Linked DNA regions of Homo sapiens: all the other regions are linked to region 3. Evidence: fine-mapped expression QTL. A gene starts in region 3. Each other region holds a variant in brackets. All regions are shown on one strand. Distances are from middle to middle. Region 1 overlaps CLMN (calmin). Region 2 has its middle 38 kb from the start of C14orf132. Region 3 holds the start of DICER1 (dicer 1, ribonuclease III).

The links. PIP is the estimated chance that this variant, and not a neighbour inherited with it, causes the effect.
Region 1: its variant is fine-mapped to the expression of DICER1 in whole blood (TOPMed, PIP above 0.99).
Region 2: its variant is fine-mapped to the expression of DICER1 in sun-exposed skin (GTEx, PIP 0.96).

The regions. Positions count from the first base shown.
Region 1 is chr14:95,182,508-95,190,507 of GRCh38, forward strand. CLMN (calmin) reads right to left here. Exons shown (of 13, transcript NM_024734.4): 13 at 1-8,000. Among named protein-coding and RNA genes, the nearest start is that of DICER1-AS1, 29 kb to the left of the region's middle. The variant T/C (reference allele first, on the strand shown) is at 3,281.
Region 2 is chr14:95,995,708-96,006,355 of GRCh38, forward strand. No RefSeq gene overlaps it. Among named protein-coding and RNA genes, the nearest start is that of C14orf132, 38 kb to the right of the region's middle. RefSeq lists an enhancer at 5,849-6,350. The variant C/T (reference allele first, on the strand shown) is at 4,146.
Region 3 is chr14:95,151,127-95,161,774 of GRCh38, forward strand. DICER1 (dicer 1, ribonuclease III) reads right to left here and starts at 6,403. Exons shown (of 27, transcript NM_177438.3): 1 at 6,104-6,403. DICER1-AS1 (DICER1 antisense RNA 1) reads left to right here and starts at 6,562. Exons shown (of 4, transcript NR_015415.1): 1 at 6,562-6,732; 2 at 7,067-7,108; 3 at 7,750-7,909. RefSeq lists silencers at 5,694-6,053, 6,114-6,573 and enhancers at 6,664-6,763, 6,804-6,873.

The sequences.
Region 1 (8,000 bases), 30 kb after region 3:
ATAGGCAGCATCTTATGGTGCAATTTCAAGGGCAGAGGGCAGGTGTCCCCTGCACCACATTCCCTCCCCACAGCTACCGCCCCTACCCCAGGGACATTCTACACAAACACACCAGCATTTGGCTTAAGGGATCCTTGTTGGAATGCAAACGGCTCCGATTCTGAGTAGAATTTCAGAAGCCTTTTTGAGTCGTTACTCGGGGAAGGGGAAAAGATGAGGGATGGGAAGATCTAGTCCTGTACAGCTATTTATTCCTGCAGTTGAACTTTTGAATTTAAAAGAAATTCCCTTAGGAAACTGCCTCAGATGCTGACGTAATTTAAGGAGACCAATTTCCTTCTAACAGCCCTAGGAAGCAGATTTCCCAGGTTCTACTTCAAACATTCATCTGAAACCTTTAAGATTCAGACTACCTTCTGTCTGACCAAACTCTTCCCAAAGGCACCTTTCTCAGATACTAAAGCCAAGAAGCACTGCCCTAAGCTTTGGGCTGATATACAGAGGTACACTTGCTTTAAGCAAATAGGCCACTTATTGAGATAAATAAAAACTACCTTCGTAACCTTTGGATTTTTAAACTTAGAAAGGACTTTTAAAAGAAGTCTTCCCACTTCCAACCCAGAGAGGTAAATTCAAGGCATCTGCAGGTGAGCCACAGCTAGGACGTGGGTTCTCCATACCCATACCAGTGTTGGCCTGCTTTGGACAATGTCAACTCTCCAGACAACAGGCACTCCCAGAGTTTCCTTTAAAAAAGTGTCTAAATCCTTGCATGACATTTAGCAATACTGGCATTCTGGCACAGCATGGGCTTGTAGAGAATACACACCTATTGATTTTTGCTGGGGCTAAAGGAAGTGGTAGCTATTGCAAACAGAATACAAGTATCAAATGATATTTTGCTATTTTGTTTTTTGTAACAATGCAAAAATCACTACTTTTAAGCTTAAAATACAGGAAAAATAATAATCCCTGCCTCAGAGACCAACCAGTTATGAATTCATCCAAGTAATTCGTGGTCTCTACTTCTCCATTTTAATTACACTGCCCTCAGGCCTTCTCTACTTTTCTTTTTGAAGGAGAAAGCCCAATTTCCTACTCTGTGAAGTACGTGTTAGAGGTGCAGAGATGAGCAGCTGGGGGCAGGATGTATAGTTAATTGGAGGCCCTGAAGAACTGTCTTTGATGTTGGACACTGAGATTTTACTGCAAAAGACCCTTTCAAGGCGGCCATTTTGGTTGCAAATTTGCAACTGCAGTGAAGTTTAGAGTGTTTGAAAATAACAGTCCTATGTTCCCAGTTCTGCTACTTACTAGTTCACGCTATGACCTTATTTTTCTGTCCTGTGCTTTAGCTTCCTTTCCGAAATAAACACCTCCCACGATTGTTCTAAGGGTCAAGTGAGTTAATGAGTAAACAATGGCTTAAACTTCCTCTTGCAAAAAGGCCTGAGTTAGATTTGAGACAGGGTAGCTCAGAAAAAAGTAATGGATTGGAGAGAGGTTGGAAGAAGCTATGGTACACTAAGGGTTAGGGAAAGAGGTATAGTCAACGCTTGCTTCAAGAGGAAGGAAATAGAGAAAAGGGGGCTGCTGGGCATCCTACAACTTCATAAACTTTCAAGAAAAGTATTTTTCATCCAACAAATATGTGCTGAATGCCTATAATGCACAGAAGCTCAGAAGTTAGTTTGCCAAGATCACCCAGAGATCTGGTGACAGAGCTGGGACTCCAATCTAAATCTGGCTGACTCCCAAACCTGACTTCTTTCTCTAGCCCACAATACCTCCCAGAGAAGAAGGCAGTGATTAAAATGAAAACAAAAAAAAGGGTTCCTTTAAAGAGAACACTGCTAGATGAAGCTATTCTTGACATCTGAGTGTCAGGGATTTAAACAAATTAGCAGTGCGATTGAGGCCGTGGATTGTTGAGGCATGTGTATATTTAAAAACAACTTGGTCAAACAGTACAAAATACTGGTTGTCTTTTTCCCATAGACAAGAATGTTTTTTGGCATGTTGCTCCAGCCCTGGCTGGGAGGAACTGCTTGCTTGATGTGTTCTCATCAAGGTTCTCAGAACAAGTTCTAAACACAAAGAAGCCAGTATTCCCAGCATTGTGGGGTCTGGCAACTGCAGAACACTCAGCTCAGAAACTCTGATAACTTTTGTGGGCTCTTGGGGAACCAGCAGCTCTGAGTCTCCAGGCTTTTGACCCACACCTGACCAAGCTCACCCCATGCCCTGTCTCACACACAATGGTAGAGAAGTGACAAGACCTGAAGGTCCTGTAGGACTCTTAAGAAAAATCAGAGTGAAGGCCAGGCACAGTGGTTCATGCCTATAATCCCAGCATTTTGGTAGGCCAAGGCAGGAGGATCACTTGAGGCCAGGAGTTCGAGACCAGCCTGAGCAACAGTGAGACCTGTATCTATAAAAGATAAAAAAATTAGGTGGGCGTGGTGGCATGCACCTGTACTACCAGCTACTTGGGAGGCTGAGGCAGGAGGATTGCCTGAGCCCAGGAGTTTCAGGCTGCAGTGAGCTGTGATCACACCACTGTACTCCAGCCTCGGTGACAGAGTAAGATGCTGTCTCTTAAAAAAAAAATCAGAGTGAAGAGGGCAGGTGCTCACGTGGAGCCCAAAGATACAGGTGTCTGCACACGATGGAAATGGAACCTGTGCAAAGTCCATGCAAAGTCTGTGCACCGGGCTCACTTCCATGAGCTGCTGACTGCTGTTTTCCAAGGAAATGCCTGATGAGAGCAAGGCGCAAGATCTGTGGAGCTCAAGGGGATGCTTGTGTCTCATGTTTGGTTCTCCCACGCTGGCTGTTAGGGGAAAAGAGCCATAGCAATTTTCAGCACAGAAGCACAATAATGCCCACTCCAGCTCCCAGCCTTCCACCACCCAACCCAGGTCCTGGACCTTGTCATTAGGGCAGCCCCCTCATCAGTTGGATGGGACAGAACAACCTGCTATGTGGTGATGGTTCCAGATGGCAGCTGCTGGCCCAAGACGTTAAATCTTCCCCAAATGCTGTGTCAGCAGTGATTATGCAATGTCGGGGAAGGAGAAATAACACAGCTGGGCCTCACAGGGCTTTGTGCAGTCTCATTTCCTGGCTGAGAAGGTCCCGAGATACCAGGCTGACTGGAAGCTCCCACACAGCCCATTTCTGGGACCTGAGGGCGCAAGGCTCCACAGAGGAATACCGGCGGGGAATGCAGTGGAGACCCCCAGGAAGGTGTCTCCAAGCAGAAGGGAGAGAGAGGCCG[T/C]GTCTCAAAACTCCAGAGGCTTCTGAAGTCCTTCTGGAGAGTTAAGAAAATCGGAGCTCATGTGAAAGCATTCTTGTCATACAACTGCCTTCCAATGGCATGACCACGGAAGGAGAACAGCTCCTCACCAAAGCAGCCATGATGGATTCTGACATTTTCGTAAGACACATCTGTACTTGCTAATTCTGACTTTTGTTGGAGAGATGAGCTCCATGGTGTTCTGAGTCCCTAGCGATGGTGGGTAGGGAGGTTAGCTTCAGCAGCTGAGGCTGTGGTTTTGTAGTAAACTTAACTGGGAATGAAGATGGCTATCTGGAGGTCATCAACTAGCAGGGCGACTAGTCGTTTCCTCTTTCTAATCTTCAGTTTTTCATCTCTTAAATGAGGCACTGAACGCTTACATAATTCCTGAGGTTTTCGAACAGTCTGTGACTTACAGAGATCAACAACACAGGCTGCCCCCAGTGCCTCTGCCTTCCCTCTGTTCCATCCTGATAAAGAGCAGGCATGCACTGCATGGGAAGAGGGTGGGGGGAACTATGCTGAACCTCAGAAATGGAGACGCCCATGTTCTGGGTGGCTGCCCGAGGGGCAGCAAGAGTGTCCTGCTTCTGAGCCTTGGTGGGAGAACATCTCCCCACAAAGGTCAGGTCTGACCAGGAAGCCCCGACCACCTGATCATCAACTATGGCAAGATACAAACTTCGACGAGGCAATGTTGGCCACGTTCAACAGAGAATCCGCGCTGTTTGTTTGCTGGCAAACACCTGTGTGGACTACTTGTTTCTTTATTTTTGAGACAGCGTCTCGCTCTGTCACTCAGGTGGAGTAAAATAGCAGGATCATAGCTCACAGTAACCTCAAAGTCATGGGCTCAAACAATTCTCCTGCCTCATCCTCCTGAGTAGCTGGGACTATAAGTGTATGCCACCACTAATTTAAATTTAACTTTTTGTAGAGATGGAGTCTTGCTATGTTGTGCAGGCTGGTCTTGAATTCCTGGCCTCAAGCGATCCTCCTGCCTTGGCCTCCCAAAGGGCTGGGATTATAGGTGTGAGCCACTACTGTGCCTAGCCAGTTTTCTGTTTCTTAAGTGAAGCAAGGGTGGTAAAGAAAACCTAGAACCCAGACCACCACATAGACTATATCTTTGGGGAGGCAGGAGATCTAAGATCATTTACTGACAATAGGCAGCAAAACCAGGGGGAAGGAAGGAAGGTAATAACTAATCATGGCATTCAAGCAGAGCTTAGCCATGCTATGTATCCCTCTCCTGCACTTGGCACAGCATTACACAAAATCACTTAGCAGACCACAGCTCAACAGGATGGATGTTGCTGCAGTCCCAGCTGGACTCAGGGCACGTTCACAAACCAGTCAGAGCAGCAAGCCCCCTAAGCAACCTGTGAGATAACTCAAATGGGGTTTATGGATCAAGATGGTATACTGAACACATGAGCCTGTTTCTTCCCTCATGAAACCCCATGAAAATAGGAGCAGAGGAATGAAAGTTATATTAATACAACCATGAACACAGAATACAGAAGAGAACAGTAAGCAAGAGCTAGCAACCTATTTATGCAGGAATGGAACTGATGGAAAAGTGAGCAGGGAGGGGGATCCTAAAACCACATGCCTGCAGAGGGGAGGCCACAGAGTGGTCAGCAGAGATGCCCTGTGGCCTCCAGGAGAGGCTTGGGGATTGGAATAGGAGGGATGGGGTGAGACATGGGGCTGAAGACCAGGGCATTTATTGGCTCTGAGGTCCCCTGTCCTTCCCATGCAGCCAGATGACCACTGTGCTCCTACTCCATGGAGAAATCAGAGCAGCTCCAACTCAGGGACACCAGGCACAGCAAAGGTTGAAGCAACTTAATGAAAGTCTAAATACTCACGGGTGATGAGGCTGCCTGCTCAGCGGTCAGGACTCGGGCACACTGAGTATAGACCAGGGTCTCTGGATATGGTCCTACAGTTGTGCATTGCACAGAGGCACTTGGCTAAAGAGGGCAATTAGGAGTTAAAATCTAGCCTTTTCATTGTTCCTCGAGCATTGTCCAAGCTCAGAGCTGGGTATGTCTGGAGGAAGGGGCAAAAGGTGTCCTTTGCCAGTCAAGCCAAGTGCTCATGGGGACTTCTGCCCAGATGGGACACCATTTTTGAAACCACATGAGTACTCAGCATAGGCTAAAAGCCCTGTGTATGCCCGTTTCCCAGGAAGGAGAGTAGTGGGAATATCTCTCAAGAAACAGAATGAGCCCCAGAGAAAACACGTGCAAATACTGACAGGCAGTGTTCTCCAATGATGAGTCCAGGTGCCCACCTGGTGACCCTAGTGGAAAAGCTCACCAGTTGGCACACACAACTTCCAATCAGCTTTTGGATGCCTCACTCTTAAAACATGAACAGATCCATAGGATCACCATATATTTGAGAAAAATTCACAACGTGAAAGATAGAGACTGAGACCACCAAAATAAAGAGAACTCAGAGAAAATGAGGGCAACACAGGGAGCAGAAAAGACTTCCCCTCAGACCACAATCATTAACGTCCACAGAGAGACAAAATCTGCATCCACGCATCAAGAGCAGGACACTGTAAAACAAAGACAGGATAATAACCAAAGGTTTTATTAACTTGGAAAATAAAAATTCAATAAAACATTCAGATTGGGAAGATAAAAATGAATAATTCTTCCTGAAAGCAGATCAGAAACATAGACGAAAAATAGAAAAGATAAAAAATATTAGAGCATCAGCCTGGGTGTAGGGGAGGGTCCAACATTGAAATAATAGGTGGTCCAGAAAGAAAGAATGTAAATAATCACAAGAAAATTTAAGAAATTTCCCATGAAGGCCCAGCACAAGGTTTAACACCCGGGATACAACACCATCATGACAGTTCAGAACACCAAGAATAAAGAGATCTTAAATGTTTCCAGGAAGGGTGGATAAAAAAACCTAAGTCACATATAAAGGTACGGGAATCAGAATGGCATCAGAAATCTCAACCAGCACGCTTGGGAGGGGCTAGGGGAGGGTATTATTTTCCACCTGTCATTCTATGCTCAGCCACATTTCTGTTAAGGGCAGAATACAGACATCTTAAGTCATGCAAAAATCTCAAAATATTTACAACCATATTTACTTCCCATGTTCTCTTCCTCAGGAAGTTATTAAAGAATGTGCCACACCAAAAAAAAAAAAAAAGTAAAGAGAGAGAATAGCAAATTAATGGGGACATTTGGAGGAGAAAGGACATGTAACCATAACACACTGCTGGGCTTGGGAGTCAACAATCCTTAAGTGCTCCAGGTAATGTCAACACCTAATAGAAATGTACTAAATGATGTGATCTAGCTATACTGGAAAACCAAAGCACGGTATGGTAAGAGTGAAATCCTCCTCTACTGTGACAGCAAGCCAGTAGATGTTTCTAAATTAAAAAATAAAGTGTAAGCACGTTATGTAGAAATGCAAACATAAGAGAGTTGAAAGTGGTTACTTCTAAGCAGCGAGACTTAGGGGACTGCTAGTTCTTGTTAAAAGCCTTATTGTATTTCTTTTAATTTAAAAAAAATTTACAAGCAATGGGGTGGTTTGTCCTGCAGACTTCCACATCCATTTTCTATATCCAGCTTCTTCCATAGAAGCCTATACTCAAATGAGATTTTTTTTTCCTTTGCAAAATATCAGTTGACTGCCAACCTGAACCAAATGACTTTCAGGCATCTTGCCAGTAGATGTTTTAAACAATATTACAAGTTGTAATAGGTGAGAGAAGTATCTTGCAGAGGTTTTTCTGAACAAGGTCTAGACCCATAAAATGAAATGATTCACATTTGGGTTGGCTCTTCCCAGGCTCTTCGAGCATCTAATTTAGGCAAGGACTGCATGGTGCCCAGAGTTATAAACTATCACATAATCTTTATTATCTGTACCTTTGAGCTTTCATTGATGCCAGGGAGCTCATTAATTAGCTCATTTTCCATGGGGCTCTTGGCCTTCCAGATGGAATCACTCCAAGCTCCCAGCAGCTTTCTGGTTGGAAGGCTGAAATTCTTTCAGGAGGGGAGACAGACTATAATCAGACTGGTTTAGAGGCCAGATTTTGGCTGTCATCGACTCAGATGTGCTATGTAAATTCTTCTGGCCATGCTGGAATTCTGTAAACTTGAAACCCACTGCTTGAAATGAGCAAGTCCTTGGCTAGCAAAGAAAGAAACGTGATTCCTGGAGTAAGAGCGACGCTGGTATGTCAAATGACAAGCTGTTGCAGCTGTCAAGGGTATTTCAGAAGGAATTGGGGATGAGCTTGAAGGTGAGTAAGAATTCCTCATGGGAAAAATACAAGAACAAAACAAATGTCGATAGTTGGTCTAAACTTTTTGGTTTTGCTTGAATGTGGACATTTTAATCTAGTCATTTTATCTTTTTCTCAGGACATTGGTGTGCCCAGTGGAAGTTTCCTACAAGGGGTGACAGCTCTGGACAGGGCATCAGGTGCCTGTGTGCTCACTGCAAGTCTGCCCCTGGTCGGCTATATGATCTTGGTCAAGCTGCTCTGTCTCTCTGGGTCCAGCTAGACAAGATGCTCACTGAGTCCCCTCCTGACTCATTTGTGATTTTATAAGGGTTGCCTGGTACATGCTTTCTGAAGGGGAGAGCAAGGGGAGGAGGAACCAATGCAGAGACTCACCACGGACCTGAGTCTTGGCAG
Region 2 (10,648 bases), 840 kb after region 3:
ATCTTCTAGCAAAAAATCATTTAGCTCCACTTGTAGATGTTCTGAAATCTAGATATGGTTACTGAATCTTTTGTATCCCCAAACGTGTACATGGGCAAGCCTCTAAAAAAGCCATATACTCTTTTAAAATTATTCTTTATTTAACTTTTATTTTAAGTTCAGGGCTACACATGCAGGTTTGTTACATAGGTAAACTTTTGCCATGGTTTTTTTTTTTAACAGATTATTTAATCACCCAGCTATTAAGCCTAATACCCATTAGTTATTTCTCCTGATCCTCTCTCTCCTCCTACCTCCTTCCTCCAATAGTCCCAAGTGTGTGTTGTTCCCCTCTATGCGTTCATGTGTTCTCATCATTTAGCTCCCACTTATAAGTGAGAACATGCACTGTTTGGTTTTCTGTTCCTGTGTTAGTTTGCTGAAGATAATGGCTTCCAGCTCTATCCATGCCCCTGTAAAGGACATGATCTAATTCCTTTTTATGGCTGCATAGTATTCCGTGGTGTATATGTAGCACATTTTCTTTATCTAGTGTATCATTGATGGGCATTTGAGTTGATTTCATGGTGCTGCAATGAGCATATGTGTGTATGTATCTTTATAATAGAATGATTTATATTCCTTTGGGTATATACCCAGTAATGGGATTGCTGAGTCAAATGGTATTTCTATTTCTAGGTCTTTGAGGAATAGCCTGTATTACACAATTGTTGAACTAACTTACACTCCCACCAACAGTGTATAAGTATTCCTTTTTCTCTGCAAACTCACCAGCATCTGCTATTTTTTAATTTTTTAATAGTAGCCATTCTGGCTGGTGTGAGATGGTATCTCATTGTGGTGTTGATTTGCATTTCTCTAATGAACAGTAATATTGATTTTTTTCCATATGACTGTTGGCCACATGTATGTCTTCTTTTGAAAAGGGTCTGTTCTGTTCATGTCCTTGGCCCACTTTTTAATGGGGTTTTTTTTTTCTTGTAAATTTGTTTAAGTTCCTTATAGATGCTAGATATTAGACCTTTGTCAGATGCATAGTTTGCAAAATTTTTCTCCCATTCTGTAGACTGTCTTTTTACTCTGTTGATAGTTTCCTTTTCTGTGGAGAAGCTCTTCAGTTTAATTACATCCCATGTGTCAATTTTTGCTTCTGTTGCAATTGCTTCTGGGTCTTTGTCATGAACTCTTTGCCTGCTCCTATGTCCAGAATGGTATTGCCTAGGTTGTCTTCCAGAGTTTTTATGGTTTTGGGTTTTACATTTAAGTCTTTAATCCATCTCGAGTTGATTTTTGTATATGGTGTAAGGAAGGTGTTTAGTTTCAATCTTCTGCATATGGCTAGCCAGTTCTCCCAGCACCATTTATTGAATAGGGAATCCTTTCCCCATTGCTTGTTTTTGTCAGGTTTGTTGAAGATCAGATAGTTGTGAGTGTGTGGTCTTATTTCTGGATCTCTATTCTGTTCCACTGGTCTATGCATCTGTTTTTGTACCAGTACTATGCTGTTTTAATTACTGTAACCCTGTAATATAATTTGAAGTTGGGTACTATGATGCCTCCAGCTTTGTTCTTTCTGCTTAGGATTGCCTTGACTTTTTGGGCTCCTTTTTAGTTCTATATGAATTTTAAAACAGTTTTTTTTTCTAGTTCTGTGACGAATGTCAATGGTAGTTTAATAGGAATAGCATTGAATCTATAAATTTCTCTGGGCGGTATGGCCATTTTAACGATATTGATTCTTTCTATCCATGAGCATGGAATATTTTTTCCATTTGTTAGTGTCATCTCTGATTTCTTTGAGCAGTGTTTTATAGGTCTCCTTGTAGATATCTTTCACCACTCTGGTTAGCTGTATTCCTAGGTATTTTATTTTTGTGTGGCAATTTTGAATGAGAGTTTTTTCCTGATTTGGCTCTAAGTTTGACTGTTGTTGGTGTATAGGAATGCTAGTGATTTTAGAACATTGATTTTTACATCCTGAGAAAATGCCATATATTTTTAAGGATCACCTTCCAAGAAAAATCATTAGTTGTCAAGATAGGAGACTTTTCTTCATAATGAATATAAATGTCACATGTTGGCATAGTGAAAGTGTTTGGAGAAATGCTGTTGTTAAAATAGACTTGGTGAGGCTGAGACTTTGAAATCACCTCCCTTTAAGTAAAAGAAAATAGACAATTCAAAATAGAAGCAATAAAGATTCTATCTATTGCATCCATTTAACTCAATGTCCCAGGTAATTGTTGAATGTCTGCCCTCTGGAAGGCACTGGGCTAAGCTTGAGTGATTTATGTGTAGCTTCTTCAGTAGAGCATTCAAAGTCCTTTGTGTTCTTGTTCAACCTAAGGTTCGATACTTTCCTCCAGTCACATCTACAATGATGCTTAAAGTGCAGCCACACAGGACCCTGGGGTGGTCCCAGAATGTGTTGTCTGCCTCTCACATGCCGCCTTGTTGATGAGAGTCCTTCTAGCATCCCCCTTCTCCACATCAGGAGCTGCTACTGAGATCCCAACCTGTAGCTCAAATCTTCTTTCCATGTCAACTGTTTGCTTGCCCCTGTCCCTAGCAAAAGCTAACCCTTCCTTCTCTAGGCTCCTACAGCACTTTGTCCAGTGCCAACCATAGTCTTTCTGTAGATTTTGACAATTGCTCTCTCCAACGTCCTATGTGGCCACAAGAGAGTGAGGTGAGCCCTTCACATTGTGCAATGTGCAGCCAATAGGCATTGTAACAAAAGTTTGTGAATAAACAAATGAGTAGATCTGGAAAGCATTTTGTAGTTTACAAAATGTTTTCGCAGACTTGACGCAATTTAATCCTCACACCAGCCCTGAAGGCTTGAAATTGTTATGAGAGAGAAAGAGACAGAGAGAGAGAGAAAGGAGACAGAGAGTAAAACAGGTCCCTGCCCTCAAAAGGTTTACAAGCTGATGAGGGAGACAGAGATATTGTAAGCACTGGACAGTAATAGAAACCTAGACAAGATACTGCAGAATCAGATTTGGGGGTCAAGAGGTAAAAAAGGTGAATTCCAACTTAAGGGGAAAATAAATAATATTCATTTTGGTTTTTCTATGAGTGAGAGAAATCCTAGCAATAACTTGAACACACCACACAGGGGCAGAAGAAGCTCATTATCATTAGGATTTAATATTCCTCCATGAGTGCGTGCCTGCTCATAATTCTACATTGAGTGGAGATGCCAAAAGAAATGAGGATCCTCACATTTATTGAGTGCCTACTGTATGCCAGAAAGTTTACATGGAGAGAGTTGGTTAATCCTTTAGCACAAGTAATCCTGTAAGGGATTCTTATCTGTCCTCCCCATCTCCTTTCCAAATTCTCTCCACTTCCTTTCCTCCCCCACCGTGATGTGACTTGTCCATTGTCACACATGTGGCCCAAAGTGGAGCTGGCGTTCAAATTCATGTCAGATTCCAAAGTCTAACTGCATTTCTTTCATTTCTTTTACTTTTTTTACTTTTTCTTTTTCACACTTTTAAAATCACACCAATAATACAAAAATACATTCTCATCATTAATAAAGACATTGCAGATAAACACATGTCACCCTGACCCTCACCTAATCCCACCACATGCCCACATATACAAATGTTTCTCTCAGTTTGGTGTATCTCTTTCCAGATGTTTGTCCATGCACTTGCAAACATGTAGATATTTATTTAAACAAAAATGAGTTCACATAGAATCATTATTTCACTGTTGTGATATACTTATTGTCTTAAAATATATCTTATAATTACATACTATGTTTAAAATTTCATGATGAGCAGAATTTGTTTTTGCAAAATAATCCATTAGAGTGGATGAAACTAATGAGGTCTTTGATTGATTATTGTTGTAGCTGGGTGATGGGGTTCATTATACTGCAATCTGCCATAATACAGTTTTAAAAAATACTCATAGACTTCCATTCTCCACTTAGGAGATAGGCAAATGGAAAAAAAAATCGCTTCCATCTTTACAACAACAAATATGCTGGACAACCTGTAAATCTTGCACCTGTTAAAGAACTGAGGTCACAGGGCAACCAACTAATGTGAAATCTAAGGAAATACAGGATCCCCCAAGAAGAAAGGGGAGGTGAGCCCTTGCTTACCTGTGGTAAATCTCACCAGACA[C/T]TGGTAAGAAAAATCAGCTAAAAATGCTAACAAATTGCTAAAGGACAAATACAGACAGGTGAGAGGATATAGAACTACTGGGAATCACAAGCACAAGGGGAATATGTAGCTGCTAGCTAGCTGTTCTCCAAGCTAGATGATTACAAGAAAGATGGGGTCAGAGCATGAGTGCTGAGAGGCATCACTGATGGTGCTGACCCAGGAGAAAGGCACAGTAGTCACTGTGAGAAAAACATTAAACCCTACCTGGATCCTTTTTTCTATGTCTCCTACAGAACAAATGGCTTATACCCCTGGGGAAAGACAATACACACTCTGTCACACTTAGCACATTGATGGAAACCCATTCTAGCTGGGAGAAGGAACATAAAAATACATTCTACCTTTGCAGAAGGTGCAAGATCACTGTCCCCTGACCAGACCCACAGTTGGAAGTGTGCGATACTGCTGAGAAGGCCCCATCTCCAAGACCCAGGGACACAGTTCTTGCCTCTAAAACTGAGGCTTAGCCAGAACAGGAGAGGATGCCCCAGCTCTGCCTCTCTTTAGAGGCAGAAATGACTTCATGGCCAATGACTTGTGTGATCACACAGCCCATGCTTAGAAGGGTCCTGCATTTGGTTTAATACTCTACTATTGCCATCCTGACAGTTTTAATACTTTCTGAGCAAGGAGCCCTTCATTTTTATTTTTCACCTGCAAACTCTGTAGCACATCCTGTCAACAGGCTACAACAGCGTCAAGTAACAAATAACAGCAGTTTCCAGCTGGGAAAGAGACAAGAGCATGAAGAGAGACTCTTTCTCTCTTTCTCTCTCTGTCTCTCCAGGCATGGCACAAAGGAAAACTTAAAGTCAAGGGTGAAGCAGATATTGACTAAAAAAACCACTCTTTAAGAGCAGCCCATATGCTAGATATGACTTCATTGGTGAATTCTACCAAACATTCAAGGAAGAAATATGAATTACACACAAACTCTTCCAGAATGTAGAAGAGGAGGAAAGACTTCCCAGCTCATTTTCTGAGGCCAGCATTACACAGGTACCAAAACCATCCAAAGAAATTCAACACACACACACACACACACACACACACACACACACACACACACACACCTAGAGAAGAATATCACTCACGGATACAGATACAAAAAATTCTTCAGCAAAAATATTAGCAAATTGTGCCATATATATGTACGTATATGGTAATACATTATTACTAAGTGGGATCTTTTGCAGGAAGTTCAGGCCATTTCAACATCCAAAAATCAATCAATGTAATTAATCACATCAACAGACTAAAAATGAAAAACCATGTAACCCTCTCTATAGATGCAGAAAAAAATAATTTAATACAATTCAACAAGTCTTAAAAAATATTGAATAGAAAGAAACTTTCTTAACTCAAGAAAGGATACGTACCAAAAAAAAAAAAAAGCCACAGTTAATATCATACTTAAAATAGAAGGCTAAATATTTTCCCCAAAGATCAACAACAAGGCTGGGATGCCCCTCCTCACCATGCTTATTTAACATCATACTGGAGTTCCTAGCTAGTTTAATAATGTAATAAATAAATGTCTCTACTTGCAGACAATGTGAGTTTCTATGTAGAAAATCCCAAAGAATCTACCCAAAAAGCTACCAGAACTACTAATTTTCACAAGGTCATAGGATTAAAGGTCAACATTTAAAAATCAATCAGGGGGTGGGGTCAAGATGGCTGACTAGAAGCAGCAATGGTCGGAGGCTCCCACCGAGAAGAAACAAAACAGCATGCAAATCCTACACCTGCAACCAAGATATTCAGGTTCTATCATCAGGACTAACTAGGTGGTTGGCATGACCCACGGAGAGCAAAGAGAAGCAGGATGGTGCATCAGCCTACCTGAGAGCCACACGGGACAAGGGGAGCACCCCCATGCCCAGCCAAAGGAGGCGGTGAGTGAGTGTGCTACCCAGCCTGAGAAATTGTGCTTTTTCCACAGATCTGTGCAACCCACAGATCAGAAGTTTCCACTCATGAGCCTACGCCACCAGGGCCTTGGGTCCCAACCACAGAGCCACACAGATTCTCAACAGCCTCTCAGCTGAAATCTGCTTAAGACTACAGAGTTCCCAGCAGGAGGGGCAGCCATCATCACTGTGCCTGCCTGTTGTCTAAGTCATCTGAGCTCCCTAGGGGAGGGGCAGCAACCATCACTGTGGTTACCAGCTGCCAGCTGCCTAAGACAACTGAGATTCCTGAGAAAGGGGCAGCCATCATCACTGTGGCTGCCAGCTGGCTAAGAAAGTTGAGCTCCCCAGGGAAGAGACGGCAGACATCACTCCGGCTGCTAGCTGCCTAAGACACTGAACTCCTGGGGAGGGGGGACGGCAGCAGCCATCACTATAGCTCCAGGCTGCATTTCTCCCCTGCTAGAGCCAGGGAGACTGCATGGCTTGGTCCCGAGAGGTATTCCCCACAGCATAGCACACCAGCTATGACAGACTATGGCCAGACTGCCTCTTTAGGCTGGACCCTGACTCATCCCACCTCACTGGGTGGGGCCTCCCTGTAGGAACTCCAGTAACTCCAGCCAGGGGCTTAGGGGCAAAACTCTGATCTCCCTGGACCTGAGCCCCTATGGGGAGGGGTGGCCATGGTCTCTGTTGACCCGCAGACTTAGTCTCTCTGCTTGCTAGCTCTGAGGAATCTGGGCAGCCCAGATTAGTGGGTTTCCCCTTAGTGCAGCACACCCCCTCCACCAAGAGACAGCCAAAGTGCTTCATTAAATGGGTCCTGATTCCCATGCCCCCCAGTTGGGTGAGAGCTCCCAACAGGGGTCGCCAGACACCCTATACAGGAGCACTCCTACTGCCATCAGGTCAGTGCCCCTTGAAGTCAGAGATCCCAGTAGAAGGAGCAGGCACCCATCTTTGCTGTTCTCCAGCTTCCTCCAGTGACATCTCCAGGTGGGGGAAGGACCCAGATGAATAAGGCCTCAGCAAACTGCAGCAGCCCTACAGAAGAGGGATCTGACTGTTGAAATAAAAACAAGCAAGCAGAAAACAACAACAAGAGCTTCAACAAAAAAGTCCCCACAGAAAACTCGTCCAAAGGTCAGCAGCCTCAAAGATTGAAGCTAGACAATCTCATGAAGATGAGGAAGAATCAACAATAAAATGCTGAAAACTCAAAAGGCCAGGGTGCCTCTTCTCCAAATGATTGCAACAGCTCTCCAGCAGGGGCACAGAACTGGACGGGGAATGAGATGGACAAATTGACAGAAGTAGCCTTCAGAAGGTGGGTAGTAACAAAATTCACTGAGATAAAGGAGCATATTCTAACCCAATGCAAAGAAGCTAAGACCCATGACAAGAGGTTACAGGAGCTGTTAACTAGAATAACCAGCTTAGAGAGGAACATAAATGACCTGATGGAGTTGAAAAACACAGCACAAGAAATTTATGATCCAAATATAAGTATCAGTAGCTGAATCAATCAAGTCAAACAAAGAATATCAGAGCTTGAAGACTATGCTGCTGAATTAAGGGAGGCAGGAAAAATTAGAGAAAAAAGAATGAAAAGAAATGAACAAAACTTCCCAAAACAATGGGACTATGTAAAAAGACTAAACCTACGACTGATTGGAGTACCTGAAAGAGATGGGGATAATGCAACCAAGTTGGAAACACACTTCAGGATATCATCCAGGAGAACTTCCCCAACCTAGCAAGACAGGCCAATATTCAAATTCAGGAAATATAGAGAACCCCAGTAAGATACTCCATGAGAAGATTAACTCCAAGACACAAAATTATCAGATTCTCCAAGGTTGAAATGCAGGAAAAAAATGTTAAGGGCAGCCAGAGAGAAAGGCTGGATCACCTACAAAAGGAAGCGGTGGACCTCTCAGCAGAAACCCTACAAACCAGAAAAGAGTGGGGTCAATATTCAAAATTCTTAAAGAAAATAATTTTCAACCCAGAATTTCATATCCAGCCAAACTAAGCTTCATAAGCAAAGGAGAAATAAAATACTTTTCAGACAAGCAAATGCTGAGGGAACTTGTCACCATAAGGCCTGTCTTGCAAGAGCTCCTGAAGGAAGCAATAAATATGGAAAGGAAGAACTGGTACCAGCCACTGCAAAAACACACTGAAATACTAAGACCAATGACACTATGAAGAAACTGCATCCACTAGTGTGCAAAATAACCAGCTAGCATCATGATGACAGGATCAAATTCACACATAACAATATTAACCTTAAATGTAAATGGGCTAAATGCCCCAACTGAAAGACACAGATTGGCAAATTGGATAAAGAGTCAAGACCAATTGGTGTGCTGTATTCAAGAGACCCATCTCATGTGCAAAGACACTCATAGGCTCAAAATAAAGGGATGGAGGAAAATTTACCAAGTAAATGGAAAGCAGAAAAAAGCAGAGGTTGCAATCCTAGTTTCTGACAAAACAGACTTTAAACAAACAAGGATCAAAAAAGACAAAAAGGGCATTACATAATGGAAAAGAGATCAATTCAACATGAAGAACCAACTATCCTAAATATATATGAACCTAATACAGGAGTATCCAGATTGATAAAACAAGTTCTTAGAGACCTACAAAGAGACTTAAACTCCCACACAATAATAGTGGGAGACTTTAACACCTCACTGTCGATATATTAGACAGATCATTGAGAGAGAAAATTAAGGATATTCATGACTTGAACTCAGCTTTGGATAAGTGAACCTGATAGATATCTACAGAACTCTCCACCCCAAAACAACAGAATATACATTCTTCTCACTGCTACATGGCACTTACTGTAAAATCGATCACATAATTCAAAGTAAAACACTCCTCAGCAAATGCAAAAGAACAAAAATCATAATAAACAGTATCACAGAACACAGTGCAATCAAATTAGAACTCAAGATTATGAAACCCACTCAAAACCACACAACTACATGGAAATTGAACAACCTGCTCCTGAATGACTCCTGGGTAAATAATGAGATTAAAGCAGACTTCAAGAAGTTCTTTGAAACCAATGAGAACAAAGAGAAAATGTACCAGAGTATCTGGGAAGCAGCTAAACCAGTGTTAAGAGGGAAATTTATAGCACTAAATGCCCACATCAGAAAGCTAGAAAGATCTCAGATCGACACCCTAACATCACAACTAAAACAACTAGAGAAGCAAGAGCAAACAAATCCCAAAGCTAGCAGGAGACAAGAAATAACTAAGATCAGAGCAGAACTGAAGGAGATAGAGACAGGAAAAATCATTCAAAAACTCAATGAATCCAGGAGCTTGTTTTTTGAAAAAAATAATAAAATAGATGGCTAGCTAGACTAATAAAGAAGAAAAGAGAGAAGAATCAAATAGACACAATAAAAAATGATAAAGGGGATATCACCATTGACCCTGCAGAAATACAAACTACCATCCAAGAATACTATAAACACCTCTACCCAAATAAACTAGAAAATCTAGAAGAAATGGATAAATTCCTGGATGCATACACCTTCCCAAGACTAAATCAGAAATAAGTTGAATCCTTGAATAGACCAATAACCAGTCCTCAAGTTGAGGCAGTAATAAATAGCCTACCAACTAAAAAAAGCCCGGGACCAGATGGATTCACAGCTGAATTCTACCAGAGGTACAAAGAAGAGCTGGTACCATTCCTTTTGAAACTATTCTAAGCAATTGAAAAGGAGGGACTTCTCCCTAATTCATTTTATAAGGCCAGCGTCATCCTGATCCCCAAACCTGGCAGAGACACAGCAAAAGAAGAAAACTTCAGGTCAATATCCCTGATAAACATTGATGCAAAAATCCTCAATAAAACACTGGCAAACTGAGTCCAGCAGCACATCAAAAAGCTTATTCACCACAATCAAGTCAGCTTCATCCCTGGGATGCAAGCCTCATTCAACATACACAAATCAATAAATGTAATTCATCGCATAAACAGAACTAATGACAAAAATCACATGATCATCTCAATAGATGCAGAAAAGATCTTCGATGAAATTCAACATCCCTTTATGTTAAAAACTCTCAATAAACTAGGCATTGATGGATCATATTTCAAAATAATAAGAGCCACTTATGACAAAACCACAACCAATATCATACCAAATGAGCAAAAGCTGGAAGAATTTCCTCTGGAAATCGGCAGAAGACAAGGACGCCCCCTCTCTCAACCTATTCAACCTAGTATTGGAAGTTCTGGCCAGGGCAATCAGGCAAAAGGTAGAAATAAAAGGTATTCAAATCGGAAGAGAGGAAGTCAAATTGTCTCTGTTTGCAGATGACATAATCCTATAACTAGAAAACCCCATTGTCTCAGCCCAAAAGCTCTTTAAGCCAATAAGCAACTTCAGCAAAGTCTCAAGATACAAAATCAATGTGGAAAAATTACAAACATTCCTATACACCAACAATAGACAAGTGGAGAGACAAATCATGAATGAACTCTCATTCACAATTGCTACAAAGATAATA
Region 3 (10,648 bases):
GATGATGTGTTAATTCATGCATAGCAGATGAAGAATGTGTTATTTAGGGAAAGTTAAGAGACGTTTAAGGCACTGTTACATTTGGTATCACTACTACAGAGACCAACTAAGATAGCTGAACCAGTATAGATAATCCTCCTCGAAAACTTGTCTGTAAAATATTGTTCTCAAGCCCTCTTTTCCTTCATCCTCCATTATATTACTAGACCATACATTTCAATATTGATAATTTGGGGGCTCACAATATAATCTAATCACATTAAGACTATTGCATGTTAAAATTTTCTCTAATACACGTATTTAAAAGAAAAATATTACATTAATTTTATCAAATGCTAGTTATGTACCATGAGAGTTTAAGAAACTCCTTTTTTTTCTCAAAACCTCAAGAGGCAAACACCACTACGACAGTTTATAGACAAGGAAGCTGAGACTCAAGAGACGTTGCCATATGCCCAGTGCTCATCGGCTATAAAGTCGAAGAATCAGGATTTGAACCCTGGTCTCTCTGACGCCAAACACTTGCTCTTAAGCATCCCTACAAAGCTATGATAAAACATTAATATTTAACTCTGCAAAGTGGAAAGAACTTAAAATACCATGAATCAGAGCAACTGACAGTGATGGCTGGGCAGCAGGATGCATAAGAGGCGGACAGGCTGTGAGTTCATCATGTTAATCTCACCTCCCAGGATGTTACCAAAAGAGGAAAGACAGAAATCCTGCAATCTCGAAACATCTCAGAGGACTAAATACGACTAAATACGACTACTACCTTTCTTTTTCCCTTCAAACAGGGTCATTTAACTTCTTAATCAAAGAACCTTCCTACATCATGTCAAAGATCAGTTTTTAAACTAAGAGTCTTCTCTCATTATTCAAGTTCTCTAAGTACAACCGGTTTGTTTTCTTAAAATTCTGAACTGGTTAACAGACCTCATTTTCTAATCCTCAAGAATTGTTCAAATGTGTTGTTAAAACCCCTGCTTTATGGCATACATTGAGCTGTCAAAGAACGAACAAGCACAACAGAGTTAGTCTGTGCCAACAAGGAGAAAGTCTGCAATACAGTTAAACTCCAATTTTGACGGCGATTTTCTCCCACGATTCTTAACACTTCCCTCAGTCTGCAATGTTTCTGTGCACATAATCATACGTACCTCACAAAGCAAAAAGGACCAAGTAGCATGATTTGTCCAAAAGCAGAATAGTAATAATCTTTTTAAAAGCCTTAATATGCAAGCAATATTCTTCCCCACAAAACTGTGTTAGCTTCTAAATACTTCAAAAAGTATTATAAATTAACTTACTCACTCAACAAATCGGAGTGTCTCCTATATGTCAAGCACCATGTCTGGTAATGAACATGCATGAAGAATCTAATCCTTACTATTCCATAAACCTTAACACAACCAAGAACATGTAATGCTGTTATAAGCCTAAAAAACAAAAAGAAAAAACTCTAAGGCCAAACTTAAGCCTGTCATGTCTTACTTCTAGTAACAGTCTTACTGACATCCTCAGAGAATGTTTTGTAGCATCTTCTTAGTCACTTATTTAAAATGCATATTGAGGTAACTGCATGTTAAAGGAGTACCAACAATTCATTGACAATTTTAGATGAGGAAGCCATTTTGCACTCAGAATTATTTTAACAAAGGCTTTATTACATAACTGAAAATGTCAATTTCACCAGCTACATCTCAAAAATAATCTTTTTCTTTCTGTATTAATTCATCAAGTATACACCACGATACAACCAGTCTTACTTTTTAGACCAACACACGTTCCTAAAGACTGGGTGAGAGGGCTGGGCACGGTGGCTCACACCTGTAATCCCAGCACTTTGGGAGGCCGAGACGGGAGGATCACGAGGTCAGGAGATCAAGACCATCCTGGCTAAACACGGTGAAACCTCATCTCTACTAAAAATACAAAAAATTAGCAGGGTGTGGTGGCGGGCACCTGTAGTCCCAGCTACTCGGGAGGCTGAGGCAGGAGAATGGCATGAGCCCAGGAGGCGGAGCTTGCCGTGAGCTGAGATCGCACCACTGCACTCCAGCCTGGGCAACGTAGTGAGACTCCGTCTCAAAAAAAAAAAAAAGACTGGGTGAGAATTCCTATTTGGAAAATCCTCACTGCCCATGTTGTCCACAGAGCTTATTCCTGAATGGATTGTTATTTAGCATCTGTCAACAGCCTGAATGAGACAACTGATATTCGAGGGACACCACCCAAAAGAAATTAATGAATCAAACCACTGGAACAGTGAACACCTGTATTACTAAAGCTTTTCTATTATGCCTGAGGCTTTTATCCAGTTTCTCTAAAATGGCATGTGAAAAAATGTTTCTCTATCGTTTGTAAAATGTAAAACATTTTCTCCATATATTGCTAATGTTATTTAATGTAATAATCCAAAAGATTGATTATTCTTCATACAAGAGAAAAATCTGCTTCAAATTGGTATGCTTCCTTTCATTAATCAACGTGAGTTACATGCAGCACTCACCTTTCCTTGCCCCAATCATTCATCTAATTCTCTGCCTCCACATTCTATACTACCAACCTTTACCATTTTCATAGTACTCTAATACTTTCCTATTATAAGACCATTTCAAATCCTTTCTCAAAATAGACATCATAAACTATTAAATAAATGTACTAATACTAGAGTCTTAGCAGAAATTTGGAAGAAGTGAAAACTAGCCATCAAAAAATCAAAAGGTCCAAGCCCCACAGGCTAAGGAGGTGGAATACCAAGAAAATAATGCTGCCTCAGAAGACTAGTCATTTGGCAAGTCGTAAATTGCAAAGAAACCTGTGAATAAGAGCGAGTATAATACATACACTGGGCTTTCAGGATGAACTAAGCTCTTGAATGTCCAAAAAGCACAGCAAAAGGTAAACAAAATAAGTCACTTGGCTCCAACTTTCTCTTTATACAAATTAAAGACCTCACCAATATCTTCCTCTGGCATTCAATAAAGCACATCACTCCATGTTTGATCAGTTTTTTGAATACCTGCCAGACACTATGATTGGAACCAAGATCGTAAAAAGGAGTCGACCCTGGGCTTCAGAGAGATTACAGATTTTACTGACAGAGGAGTTGTTTGTAGGAAATTATCACTGCTTGGAGGAACCCTGAGAAAACTCATACTGCAATAAATTCTGAGTCTAGTCTAGTGTTTTGAAGATCAAGAAACAATGTGACCACTTTGAGGTATATGTCTAAAAGAAGGGAAAGCATGGACTCCAATGAATTATTTGTATACCTACGTTCACAGCACCATTATTCACAGTAGCCAAAAGATAGAAGCTACCCAAGTGGCCATGGACAGATGAATGGATAAACAAAATGCAGTATATTCATACAATGAAATACCATTCAGCTTTTCCAAGGAAGGGAATTCTGACATCTAAATCATCACAGATGAGCCGTGGAGACACTATGCTGGGTAAAATAAGCCAGACACAAAAGAACAAATACTGTATGACTCTACTTATTTTGAGGTTTCTCCAGTAGTCAGTGACAGGAAGTAGAATGGTGGTTCTCTGGCATTGAAGGTAGGATGGAATCAGGAGTTAGTGTTAATGAGGACAGTTTGAGTTGGGAAAGATGAAAAAGTATGGAGATGGATGCTGGTAATGACTAAAAACAATGTAAATGTACTGTATGCCAGCTAGTTGTACACTTAAAATGGTTCAACGTTGTGTTATGTATATTTTACCATGCCAAAAAAAAAAAAAAACAACTATCTGAAATATTCAAATAACCATTCATTCACCTGAACATTTAAGGTTAGACACAGCTTCATTCATTCCACAAGTCTTAACTGAGGAGTCACTACACGTGATGCAGCCCTGAAATCCATTTGGAACAGTAATGCAATACAAAAAGCATGCCTCCAAAGATTCTGAAACCAAACCACAATTCGATCTCGGCTCTGCCACTTCGAGATTCCTAACTTGGGGTAATAATCACTGACTCTTAGTTTCCTTGCCTATAAAACAAGGACAATATCGAGTTGATCGCAGGGTCACAGTGAGGATTAGAAGAGAATGTACGTAGAACCTGAAACATCTTGGCGCATAACAAGGAGGCACTCAATAACACGTTTCCCTTATCTCCTTTGCCATGAGCAAGTGGAAACGTGACCATGACATGGTAGGGTCGCAAGTGAGAGACTGTCTACGAAATATCTACTTTCTCAAATGAAACAAGCACCTCACATGTCAGATAGTGGTAGAGAATAAAACATCCCAACGCCATAAAAGTCACCCTCTCTAGAAGATAGCACTACAAGTACTGTACAACCCACTATATGACAAAATCACTGTCAAATAAGAATCATGAGCCACATCAAAAGACAATGTCTTCTAAAACCAAGACAATAAAGCTCAATAATAGCAAAACAACCTAGCTACCCAACTCACACATTGAGCCACGGGCAAAATACAGCAGAGCAGTCAGGGCTTACCCTTCAAACATGAGATGGAAGCATAAAAAGTAAAGCAGGCCCTTACTAAAAAGGATTGTAGGAAAATGTCTTTTCTCCCCAAATTAAAATGGACTAACTGTTCTCTTCTTAAAACAGCATTTTGGTGCCGTGAGTAAATCTATAAACCTATGTTACCATGATCAATGTTTATAGTGACCATGTTAAAAGCAATCTTTAGTTTTTTGTTTTTTTATCTATTGAGTTTTATGGAATATGCCCTAAAATGAAGTTTTGAAATAATTGTGTATGTATGTGCATGTACACAGCACATATTACATATAATACACACGTGCCACAGGTAGCTTTAAAGTAGACTTTGCAAAATAAACTGGCTATTCCAGAACCTAATTTCCAAAGATATCAATAATATTGAAAATTACTATTCTCTAGGACCTGGCTTATCCCGAACCCATCTTTTAATAAACTGAGTTTTTTGGTGAGGATGTATATTTTTATTTAGAAAACTTAACGTTTACACCAATACATATTCAATATAGCTAACCTGTTTTAACAGCACATTTTTAACAATATTTTCCGAGTTGCTTAAATCCTAACCTGAGTCCTTTTCCACTGTTTGAAAACAAGCACCACGAAGACACCTGACAATCAGGATTGTAAAGATTCAGAATATTCGAAGACAGAAGCATAGGCGTCCAAGTGATCCTCTTTCATCAGATGAATGTTTTTAAAACCTGAAAGTCCTAAGAACACTTACTTATCGTGTAGACCAGTAACGTGTCCCTTTAACCACAACTCTCTCCACAAAAGCACGGAGTTAACACTACACAAATAGGACCCTCCAACTCATCTCCACGTTTCCGCGGATCTTCAGGTTCCTAAGGACACACTCAGTGGTTTGCTGGCTCTGACCTCCAGGCAGAGCCATCAGGGCAACTCAGCTTTTCTGGACAATCTACAGAAATCTGATGTGCTAACTTAAAACATACACTGATTTCCCCAAAATCAAAAACCCTGAAGAAAGGGTCCTCCGCAGGGTCTAGGCATTTTGGCACAAAAACATCTGAGGGGAGAGGCAAAAGAATGGCCTCGGCCCCTGCCCGCCCCCCAGGGCCCCAATCTGGTCCCCTGACAGTAATCACACAGGACCCTCCCGGGAGGGACCGAGAGCCCAGCTTCGTCCCCTCCGGGCGCGGCACAGCGGCCCCATCAGAGGAGGGCCCCAGGGTGCTCCGGCAGGTCAGGCGCGCGTCTCCACCTCCGCTGCTCCCGCGCCACCTTAGCGCGCGTGACGGGACCTGTCAAGAGCCCCAGGCCTCGCCAGGCCGGGGAGTGGACAGGCGCCGGCATCCCCCACCACGCCACGGCGGCCCGGAAAGTCTCCCAGGGCTGCCTCGCGGGGAGGCGCCGGGGTCCGGGCCCAGGAGCAGAGCCGAGGCGGGCAGACGCCGGGTCCACAGGCCGCGCTGTGCGGGACGACGAGGCAGGCGAGGCCGCGCCCTTCGTCAGCGCCCGCCAGGCCCGGACGCGCGGCTCGGGGCCATGGCCGGCACGCGGGCCTCCGCGCGGAGGCGGGAGCGCGGCCAGGCGACCCGCTCCCCGCCCCGGACACAAAGCTGCTCCGCGGGAGCCCGCCTCACCTGCAGCACGGGGCGCCGCGGGCCTTCGAGAACCATCGGACCCCGCTCCGGCGCGCGCGTCACAGCCCAGGCCTCCCGGAGCCGCCCGGCGCCGCCGCCCCCGCCGCCATTTCCTCGCGCTCGCCGTCGCCTCGTCCCCGCTGTCAGGTTACTCCATTCACCTGGGCCTGCAGCAGCCTGCGCCGCGCCTCCGCCTCGACCCCTCCCGCCGGCGCCTGCGGAGACTGCGCAGCGCCCGGCTGGCCGGCAGCCAGCGCACGGCCCGCGGCAACGGCGCACAGCCGCTTGGAGAATCCCACTGGCTCCCGCACCGCCCCTCCGCGCCCCCACGCTCCGCTCGCCCCGTGGCGGCATGAGAGCGAGCCTGTGATTGGACAGGGCCTGGCGGTGAAAGGTTAATCCCGGCCCCCCAGCCACTCAGGAGCAGGGAGACAGCGGGCGCGCGCGCGGAGGCCGGAGAGGCGTTTGCGGCCCAGCGCCTGGACTGGACCTTGGCGTTGGGCCGCAGTTGCCCGGAGTTTTTGGGGCCCCCGGGAACCCGCGCGCCGAGGCCGGCTAAGTTTGGCAGACTCTCTGAGCTCTCGGAATTCGACTGCCTCCATTGTTGCTCCTTCTGGCACCCACAGACCGTAACGTGGCCGTAATTGTTTCCCGGAGAGCTTAGCTTCCCTCTGAGCACCTCCCTCCCCTTTTTAAAGTACCTTCCCACTCGCCTGCGTTTCCTCGCGTTAGTGGTGCAGGGGCCTCCGCATTTGGGGAAATAACAAACACCCACTTCCGCCCCCCACCCCAACCGGGATCCCCAGATAATGAGAAATAGATGGTGGCCCTCTGTTTGTAAGCTGTTCATTTGCATAGGTCGGAACCGCGCACCACAGCTTGAAGCTAGGAATTAAAATATCGGTGGGAATTAAATAAGTGGCTGGCTTAAAGAACATCTTCTTAATTTATCCCCAAATGTAGACATCTCTTCAGTGGACCCCCTGATAGGCCGGTTTGCTCCAGGTGAGGTGTGCTCACAGCAACTGCAACCGTGTTTCTTTCAGACCATGGGCGTGAGCAGAACCTACTATGCGCCCCTGCTGCCTGGGCTGTGCTGTTCAGTTTGGGGCCACCAGCCCCACATGGCTCCTGAGCACTTAAAGTATGGCTAGTCGGAATCGAGATATATGCATTCTTTACCAAATAATGTTCAAAAAATTGTTACATGTTGAAGTGATAAACTTTTTCCATATATTGGGATAAAAGTTTTATTTGTTTATTTTTTAGTGTGGGTTCTACAGAATTTTAAATGTCACCTGTGGCCTGCATTATATTGCCATTGGGCAGGCTGATCTAGGGCTTGCATGCCTGTGATCCTTAGGTGCACCCTGTGAGGTAGGTGCTTTAACTGTGTGCACCCTGTGAGGTAGGTGCTTTAACTGTGTGCACATTGTGAGGTAGGTGCTGAAACTGCTTCCTGTTTTTTTTTTTTTTTTCTTTTGAGACGGAGTCTCACTCTGTCTCCAGGCTGGAGTGCAGTGGTGCGACCTGGGCTTACTGCAATCTCCGCCTCCCAGGTTCAAGTGATTCTCCTGCCTCAGCCTCCCGAGTAGCTGGGATTACAGGGGCACGCCACCACACCCAGCTAATTTTTGTATTTTTAGAAGAGACGGGGTTTCACCATGTTGGCCATGATGGTCTCGATTTCTGACCTTGTCATCCGTCCGCCTTGGCCTCCCAAAGTGCTGGGATTACGGGCGTGAGCCACCGTACCCAGCCTGCTTCCTGTTTTAACAGACGAAGAAATGGAATAACTTCCAACAAGTAAGTAGCCAGTAAGTGAACAACTGAGATTTGAACCCACGTAGTCTGGCTTTGAGGCTGGTGTGCTCAGTCATTACTGTGCTAAAATTTTGATAATATATTTACTATGAATTGGCTTAAGGTTTCACTTGAAAGTAGCATATTTATGGGCAAAATTAGGAAGTAGGATGCTCCTGGCAGACCCATGTATTTAAAAAAGTAGTTTCTTATATGTCAAGCACGGTGAGCATGTCATACCTTTAAGACCCCAGTCATACATATAAGGTTTTCTTTGTAGCTAGGAATTAAAATATCGGTGGGCGTTAAATAAGTGTCTGGCTTAAAGAACATCGTCTTAACTTATCCCCAAATGTAGATATCTCTTCGGTGGACTCCCTGATAAGCCTTTATGAGAAGGACAGCATCTCAGTATGGGGGTAGGCACTGGACTCTATTGGCAGTGGAAATTTGTGGGCTGGTACAACTTCAGCCCCTCTGGTTGCCCTCTTGCAATCTGTCAAGACTAGCCAGGCTGCTTGTTCCATCAGCAGGTATACCTGATTTTTTTATTTTTTTAATTTTATGTATTTGTTTTTTTCTTTTTTGAGGCAGAGTTTCACTCTTGTCGCCCAGGCTGGAGTGCAATGGCGCAATCTCGTCTCACTGCAACCTCTGCCTCCTAGGTTCAAGCGATTCTTCTGCCTCAGCCTCCCAAGTAGCTGGGTTACAGGCATGTGCCACCACGCCCGGCTAATTTTTGTATTTTCAGTAGAGACGGGGTTTCACCATGTTGGCCAGGCTGGTCTCGAACTCCTGACCTGCCTCGGCTTCCCAAAGTGGTGGGATTACAGGCATGAGCCACTGCGCCTGGCCGGTTTGTCTGATTTTTATCAATTTCAGTTTTTATTTTTAAAATAAATAGTATATCCATATTATTCATTTATCAGAAAGCCTATAAAAGATACACAGTGGAAAAAGATGTCCCTCACACCTGTCCTAGTGTCACAAATAGGTGACCACTGTTTCCTGCTCATTCTTCAAAATGTTTATGTATATATGAGCCAAGATATGCCCTTTGTGTTCCTTGTTTAGAAAAATGCCGGCATGCCATACATATTTACTCCACCTTGTGTTTTTTACTTAATGTATCCGGGGGGCATGTTTATAGTAACACATAGAGAGCTCCTTGCTGTTTTTTCAACCCCCTTAACATATTATTGCAGGTATATCCATACCATAATTTACCAATTCTCTATTGATGGACATTTAGACTTTAAGTCTTTTGGAATTAAAAGTTGATCCATTTGGAATCGATTTAATATATAGGGTGAGGTATAGATCCAAATTAATTTTTTTGTCCAGGTGGCTACACAGTCATTTATTGAGCAGTTCACTTCTGGACTCTGTATCCGTTCTAATGGTCTATCTATTCATGCTCCACTTGCTGGTTTGTTTTAAATCCAGAGACATAAAATCTTGTAAGGGATATTGTTTCACACTTTGTTTGGATCACTAGAAATCTTAAAGCCTATATTTCAGCCCGTGTTAAGCAACGGTATAGTACCATGTGGCATGCATTTTCTATGGGCTAATTTTTATTTTCCCTTAGCCCCTATTATTTCCACAATTTGGTTTATTTTTTGTAGAACAAGCCAGGATTTAAATATACCTTTAAGACTCTCTGTTTGCAAGTAACAGAAACCAAGCTGAACTAGCGCAACCAAAAAGGGAGAATTTACCATAATGATATAGGTGCTTCTCACAAAAGCCCAGAACAGGAATACAGCCACATCTTAGCAAAAACTAGAACCAGTCATTGAAAAGCTTCCAGGAACCCAAAAGGTACTCTCTGTGCCCCTTGTGATTGTTTTCTATGTATCTCTGCTAACTTGTTCTCTCTGCTTTTCCATCTACATGGGAGAATATAGTCACTCCCATATTGGACTGGGCTGTCAGTTCAGTGAGGAGTCTGAGCCCAAAGAAGGAAGGTGGGGCAGCAGCCCTGCAAGGCCAGACAGCTGATTACATACAGGAGAACTACACAAAGAAAAACTATATTGAGGCTAATGGGAGCCAGATTTTTCCCTGTTGGAGAAGGGAGTTACAAGTACAGAAATAAGAAAAGCAAGAAGTTTGTGTGATTGGATTGGAATTGGAGATATTCATGTAAAGTCATGGTTCTTAATACATGTAGATATAAAAATAAATATAAATGTAAAAGTGTGTATCTATATATTTTGTGAGATTCTGAAATATATATTTGGTCTTTGACCTCATTTTCTGGTGTACAACTCCTAAATTTCTTACAAACACCGAAGTGATGTCTTTTGTATGCTAATGAGTTGGCTCGTGGCTGGGAGCCCCTAGGTAGCTTTAGGATGGGGTTGGTCATCAGAAAGACCAAGGCAGGATCAGAGGGTTGGACCTTCAGCCTATCACCAACTTCTTGGAGAAGAGAAGGGTTGAAGGTCAGGTTATCACCAGTGGCCAATAGTTTAATCAGTCATCCCTTATGTAATGAAGCCTGCATAAAAACCCATGAGGACAGGGTTGGAGAGCTTCTAGATAGCTGAACACCAGGAGGTTCCTGGGAGGGTGGTGCACCCAGGGAAGGCATGAAAGGTCTGAGCCCCTTCTCCCACACCTCATCCTATTTATCTTTTCATCTGTATTGTTTGTAATATCTTTTGTAAACATAAGTGTTTGCTTGAGTTCAGTGAGCTGCTCTAGCAAATTAATCTAACCCAAGAGGGGGTCATG